Homo sapiens: one gene and its partner. The protein of the gene in region 2 purifies or fractionates together with the protein of the main gene of each other region. This does not show direct contact. Each region holds a gene or a part of one and is shown on either strand. Other genes may lie near its edges.

Region 1 (3,500 bases), on a different chromosome or scaffold from region 2:
AAACGGGGCTTACGTCACACAGCTTACTGTCTACATTAACGTGACTTCACTCTTCCTCTGTCTGCACCAATCTAACTTTACAGCTCCTGCACTCTGTTGGAGTGGGCACAGAGGATGACCTAGGGCCCAGCACCTGCCTCACTGGGGACATCTGGCCCCAGCCTCAACCTGGCTGTTTCTGGCCTTCAACCCCAACGCACACAGAGACAGAGAGAGAGAGAGTACCAGGACCAGAGCACAACCAGAACACTCAAGAGAGCAAAATACTGGTCTCAGATGCCCCGCAGTAGGGGATGAGCTGGGAGGAAGATGACCACTGGCCACTCCCCCACCTCCTCCAAATAACACACATAACACAAATAACCTTCCGATTCATTCCAACTCTTCAACAGGAAGCATCGGTTGACACCTCTCGCCTCAAAATCCACACCCTGCTGTGCCCACCAATCCTTAACATGGGGATTAAGGATCTTAACCAATCTTAACCAACTTAAACCAATCTTAACCAACCCCCATGTTGAAAGATCCACCTTAAACCAGACTTCAAAATCTCAGCAGATCTCCCCACCCTTCCTGCCCTCTGAGATGATCCTAAGGCTTTGCAAGACAGTGCTGCCTCGCCACAGAAAGCAACAAGCCCAGCCTGTCTCAGCAACAGGCTGCTGTGGTGGTATTTTGGGGAGCAGCACACCACGCTGCTTGCAGACCCTGGCTCACGTAGCAGCAAGTCTGGCAGGAACAGGCTACATGAGCTGGGGTCTGCAGGCAGCGTGGCGTGCTGCTCCCAAAATGTGGACAGGAATACTGTTAGAAAGGCTGCTGTTTGCTGAAGGTCAGCAGGCTGGGAAATGATTCCTGCATCCCTGGTGCCAGCAGCTGAGGCTGGGCACCTTTGAAAGCCTGTGGATTTCCGGCCGGCGCGGTAACTCAAGCCTGTAATCCCAGCACTTTGGGAGGCCGAGGCGGGCGGATCACGAGGTCAGGAGATCCAGACCATCCTGGATAACACGGTGAAACCCCGTCTCTACTACTAAAAATACAAAAAAAATTAGCCGGGCGTGGTGCCGGGCGCCTGTAGTCCCAGCTACTCGGGAGGCTGAGGCAGGAGAATGGCGTGAACCCAGGAGAATGGCGTGAACCCGGGAGGCGGAGCTTGCAGTGAGCCGAGATCGCGCCACTGCACTCCAGCCTGAGGGACAGAGCGATACTCAGTCTCAAAAAAAAAAAAAAAAAGAAAGAAAGAAAAGGAAAAAAAAAAAAAGCCTGAGGATTTCCAAATGCAGGCAAGGGCTCCATCTGGTGGCCGTCTGTGGAGGAGCAACCCGCCCTGGCCTCAGAGGCCTGGGGGACGGTTCTCAGGAGACAGGGGCTCCAAGGCCTGCCCACAAGGCCTGGGGTGGCTGTCTGGGTTCAGCGGTCCACATTCATGCCCACCCAGCCCTGCTCACCTCTTCTCTGAAGGGCAAGGGAGGCACAGTGGGGTCCAAGCGGAACATGTCCTCACACAGCAGGGCTCGCAGGCACAGTGCCAGGCTCTCCACGTCCCGGGCCATGGGGCCCACGGAGAGACGCACTGTGGGGCAGAGAGGTGAGGGAGGTAAGCAGACAAGGAGCGAGGAACCCAGACCTAGAGCAGCCTGGGGGCCAGACACTGCCCTGCCACCTGAGAAGCACGGGCGGAAGCGGGTCAGGCCGACCCCCACCCTCCTCGGGGCACTGAGAGCACCACGGACCTCACCTGCCTCCTGTCCATAGACACAGCCCTTCAGGCCACTCTTGCTGGATAAGAAACATAAGATGCTGGAAACAGGAAATGGCCACCCGCCGCCATCCCCACACCCACAGAGCAGCTCTGAACACTCACCGCTTTGGAAACTAGGACCCACGCCCGGCCAGTGGTACTGTAATGCTTCCTCCCAGCAAAACCCCGGAGACCGAATCCCCGCCTGGAGCCCAGAGAGGTTGGAAGCTAGGCCAAGGTCACACAGCGAGGGGCCCAGAAGCGCCCTCCACCCACCTTACCTGAGGCGGTTCCCTGTGGGCTTGAGGCCGCAGATGCCGCAGAAGGAGGAGGGGAAGCGGATGCTGCCTCCGATATCAGTGCCTAAGCCCAGGGGGGAGCCTCCAGACCCGATGAGGGCCCCTTCACCCCCTGAGGAGCCCCCTGGGCTTTTGGAGGACTTCCATGGGTTCACGGTCTGGCCAAAGAGGGGGTTACTGCAGTCATAGCTGGAGGAGCCAAGAATGGGTCAGCCCGTGCCATGCTGGGACCGGTGCCCCTGCCCCGCCCCGCCCCACCCCAAGACCCAACCTGAACATGGACTGTGGAACATTGGTGTGCACGAAGGGCACGGCACCCTGCAGCTTCAGCACATGCACCACTACGCTGTCGCACTCCGCCGGCACCCCTTCATTCAGGCTCAAGCCCAGCGTGGAGTCCTGGCCCTGGGAGGAGGGATGGGCACCAGAAGGGAGTGAGTCAGGGCCCGTGGGCAGCCAAGGGTCCACTCCAACAACTGTCACACAGGCCAAAACAGGTATACCAGTGTCCCCTCGGAAGGCCTCTGGACCTGATACCTCCTCTAAGGGCCCAAAATGACCCAAGATGCAGAGCAGGCTGGCAGGGATGGAGGGGACGATGGAGGCCTGGCGCTGAGGCAGAGCATACCTTGTAGGTGAAGCACTCCTTGAGGCTCACAGGGACGCCATAGAGCAGGCCCTGCCTTGGGGCCTGAGACAGCTGAGTCTCACAGTCAGCCAGATAGGAGGTCACACAGTTGGTCCCTTTGTTCACTTCCCAGGCCTGAGGAAGGGGAAGTAGACATAAGATAAAAGGAGGCTGGCCTTTTTAAGAAATTGTGGTGAAATATACATCATGTAGAACTGGCCTTTTAAAGTATACCCAGGGAGAGGGGTAACCAGCAACATGGCCCAGAGCCTGGGGCACAGAGGATGACCTAGGGCTCAGCATCTGCCTCACTAGGGACATTTGGCCCAGGCCTCATCCTGGCTGTCTCTGGCCTTCAACCAGGACCAGGGCACAACCGGGACACTCAAGGGAGCAAGATACTGGCCTCAGGTGCCCCCCAGGTAGGGGGTGAGCTGGGAGGAAGATGACCACTGGCCACTCCCTCACCTCCCCCAAGCCACATCTCTGCCAGTGAGGCAGACAGAAACCAGACAGGGGCAGCGCCCCATCACTGGTCACACTGAAGGGCAACCACAGAGCAGGACTAGACCAGACTCCTGCCTCCCGGAGCCCAGCAGTCTCTCCTCAACCCCACGCCTTCCCCACATGTAGCCCAGTCAAGCCTCCCCTTACCCAGGAAATCTTGAATTTGATAATCAAGCCATGTGGAGTAGGAGCTTGACAAAAGGGAAGAACATGCTAATAGTGGAAATCTGCCTAGAATGCTCAAACCTCACCACACAGGGTCCTACAGAAGGAAAGGTGAGGGCAGAGTGAGATGCAGCTTTCAGTAAATATTCCTGCTCCTGGG
Region 2 (3,500 bases):
GAAATGGATGTTTTTGACAGTTTTCTTCCAGCTTTCTAGCTGTTTTTTGGGAAGAGGTTTCATCAACCTCCTCACTCTGTCATGCCAGAAATCAATATCTCAGCTACTTTTTACATTCTGCTAGAATTGGAATTATTAATGCTATTAAAAAATAGGCCATGTGGACCGAGCACAGTGGCTCACACCTGTAATCCTAGCACTTTGGGAGGCTGAGGTGGGTGGATCATTTGAGGTCAGGAGTTTGAGAACAGCCTGGCCAACATGGTCAAACTCCATCTTTACTAAAAATACAAAAATTAGCTGGGTGTGGTGGCGCACACCTGTAATCCCAGCTACTTGGGAGGCTGAGTCAGGAGGGTCGCTTGAGCCTGGGAGGCAGAGGTTGCAATGAGTTGAGATCATGCCACTGCACTCCAGTCTGGGCAACAGAGTAAGACCCTGTCTCAAAACAAAACAAAACAAAAACAAAAACAAAAACAAAAAAATGCATGGGGGTGAAAATATCATTAAAAATCTTATTTTCAAAGCAAAATGTTTGAGGTTTTTTTTCTGGAGAAACTTCAACCCATAAAACACAAAGATGACTAAAAGCCCAAGTTAAATAATGATTTCATTAAATTAAATTTAATTAATTAAGGAGGCTTACTCCTTGAAAGCAGCATCTAGAGCTCTACAACTTGCCTCCCTCACAGGCACTAAGGAAATGAAACGTGCCAACAGAAGTTGGCCCCACCATGTTTCAGTTAAGATTGGCCATCCCACAGCCACTTCCCCGCTCCTTCTGTTTCTTTGTGGTTCCCCCACCACTTTATCTTATGCTTCCCCCATAGTCATTCGGATACACAGAGGTTGTTCTTAGAATAATCCCTTTTCTAAGGTTTCATAGAAATGCCCCAACCTGGCCATTTGTCTATCTTCCTTTCTCTATCACCTTGGATCGACTGAGTCCCCTTGTGTAAGTCACTTGAGCTCTGGACACCTGCACAGCCTCCAGGAAGGAAATAAGGAGCCTATCCATGATTGTCTTCCAGGACTGTAAGAAAGATGAAATATGCCATGTTGATAAAATGAGCAGGCCTCAGAAATCGTTACCTGAATGAAGGAAGGATCAGGCTCAGGGACAGCGCCTAGAAGTGGTCTCATGAAGCTCAAACAACTTCACATTACCCAGGTTCTGAGATCTTTGGATACACAGGCTCTTGAGAGAGAATTTCCCACCCCTCTTGTCTCTTACCTTAGCAAAGAAAATCCAGGCTGCACACTGCCCTGGGGCCAGAAGGTTTTTTAGCTTCACTGTACTGAACATGAGAAAGAATCCCAAAAATCCACTGGAAGGAGAAAAGATTCTCTTGTTAGTGAGGCTTGTCTTCCCTTAGCCAATGGCTGACTAGTGTCTGCTACATTTTACCAATCAATTTCAAATTATTATGCAACCTCTACCTCATCTGTGTTTTCTAGATCTGTGATCTCTGGATGAAAATAAAAAAAATTTTAAAGTCATTAAGCTCTGCTTTTCTAAGGAGCTATGGTGGGAGAATTTTGATTAGAGGAATGGTGCAAAGAAATTTCAGAGGCCTCTGGCTAAATCATGAAAGAAAAAAAAGGTGGAGGACAACACCTCTTGTTCCTTCCCATAGAACTTCTGGAGTTTTGGTGCTTGGCAAGGCAGAGCTTAAATTTTTTTCAAGCAAGATAAACTGGCAGGAAAAGACTTCCAAAGGGAAACTCACCATGTGAGAAGAGAGAGTCTGGACTGGCCTCCAGGCTCAAAAGAATCTGAAGGGGAAGGCTGGCTTCAGTGACACATATGGCTGAGGCCAGAAGTCCCCCAAACCAGGCTGTCCTGCCATAGGAGGTATGCTTTGGAAATGGTGCCTACACATGTGTGTGAATGGAAAGATCCCCACTCGAGAACCTGAGGAAGGGGCAGCATCTTGGGGCTATTCAGGAGTGTGGACCAACAAGGGCGAGGGCACAGCAGTGGATGGAGATGTAGTTGCCTGTGCTGCAACTATTTCCAAAAGTGCCCTGTGTGGCCAAGGCCAAAGCAAAGGGAGCTCCAAATGCTTCCTGACATTTGAAGGCAGGACAACTGGGGAAGAGGTGAGACAGACAGTGTGTGTGTGTGTGTGTGTGTGTGTGTGTGTGTGTGTGTGTGTGTATGTGAGAGAGAGAGAGAAAGGCTGACTTCATGCAAATATGTGCAAGTGGTGGTTTGAGTGTGACTGTTATTTGAACTTGAAAATTGCAAAGTAAGAGATATGACTGCAGTTGTAACTCCAAGCTAGAGAGGCAAGCCCTGTGAGTTGTACTTCATTTGCATCTCCAGACCCTTGACTGCCACACTTCCATCTGACCTTATACAGGCACTGGTGCGCAGCTCCAATACTGATCATAAACTCTGAGCAGGAAAAGCCCAATCTTGGGCTGCTCTTCGTATTTTCAACGGAGCCTAATATGGTGCCTCAGTTACGGTACACATTAACTAAATGCTTGTCAGGTTGAATTGGAAGCAGACTGAATTAATTGAACACACCTAAGGCCAAATGTCACAGAAATGTGTACCTTCACTTCATTAGATTAGACTAGTTCACAGCCACATTCTTGGGGCAGGACTAAAGACAGGCATTAGGTTTCCCCATGTGTATTTCAGCCTGTTTGGCCCTAATGACCTGCAAAGTTTGTTCCAATTTGCATCAGCAGTCATGGGAGGCTGAACAGCTATGGATTAAGATGTCAAGTTACTCACACCCAAAAGGCAAAGAGGGCCCGTGGGTAAGCAGCAGGCCTACCCAATCACACCCAGCGCCTGGATTTCTATTCCTCACTGTGCTTACTGACCCTCGTAACCTTAACCAAATCCCCCTTCCCACCTTTTTGTCTCAGGTTCAGTTGCCTTAAAGTAGAAATAATCATAGCAGTCCTCATCCTATCTTAATGGAAACCAGAGGCTTTTAGAACAGTAAGATTACCTATCCCCAAAGTCTCACTTTATTAACAATGAAACTGGGGCACAGGTACAATTAGAATCCAGGTCTCCATGGCTCTTCAGATCTCTGGACCAGCAAGGGCGCTGGCACAGCAGTGGACAGATGTAGTTGCCTGCGCTGGAACTATTTTCAAAAGTGCCACTGTGTGGCCAGAGCCATAGCAAAGGGAGCTCCAAACTCTTCCTGGCATTTGGAGGCAGGACAACTGAGGAAGACGTGAAGCTTCATGGAAATGTGTTCTTGACCAGCTAGACAAAGAGTGAGATATGGCCAGGTGCGGTGGCTCAAGCCTGTAATCTCAGCATTTTGGGAGGCCGAGGCGGGCGGATCACGAGGTCAGGAGATCAAGACCATCCTGGCTAACACGGTGAAACCCCGTCTCTACTAAAAATACAAAAAAAAAAAAAAAAAAAAAGAAAATTAGCCTGATGTGGTGGCGGGCACCTGTAGTCCCAGCTACTCGGGAGGCTGAGGCAGGAGAATGGGTGAACCCGGCAGGCAGAGCTTGCA

What was found. The genes of interacting proteins can lie anywhere in the genome.
Region 1: the proteins of SLC35D4 (region 2) and FAAH purify together in Homo sapiens (affinity purification with mass spectrometry; one large-scale study listed by BioGRID and IntAct). This does not show direct contact.

The regions. Positions count from the first base shown.
Region 1 is NC_000001.11:46,404,317-46,407,816, reverse strand, and holds part of FAAH (fatty-acid amide hydrolase 1), read right to left. Parts: intron 2,804-3,500; coding exon 2,669-2,803; intron 2,446-2,668; coding exon 2,312-2,445; intron 2,230-2,311; coding exon 2,023-2,229; intron 1,780-2,022; coding exon 1,739-1,779; intron 1,574-1,738; coding exon 1,449-1,573; intron 1-1,448. UniProt on the Homo sapiens protein: Catalyzes the hydrolysis of endogenous amidated lipids like the sleep-inducing lipid oleamide ((9Z)-octadecenamide), the endocannabinoid anandamide (N-(5Z,8Z,11Z,14Z-eicosatetraenoyl)-ethanolamine), as well as other fatty amides, to their corresponding fatty acids, thereby regulating the signaling functions of these molecules.
Region 2 is NC_000018.10:23,350,962-23,354,461, forward strand, and holds part of SLC35D4 (UDP-N-acetylglucosamine transporter TMEM241), read right to left. Parts: intron 1,329-3,500; coding exon 1,235-1,328; intron 1,034-1,234; coding exon of another isoform or gene 932-1,033; intron 1-931. UniProt on the Homo sapiens protein: Golgi-localized UDP-N-acetylglucosamine (UDP-GlcNAc) transporter that transports UDP-N-acetylglucosamine into Golgi lumen.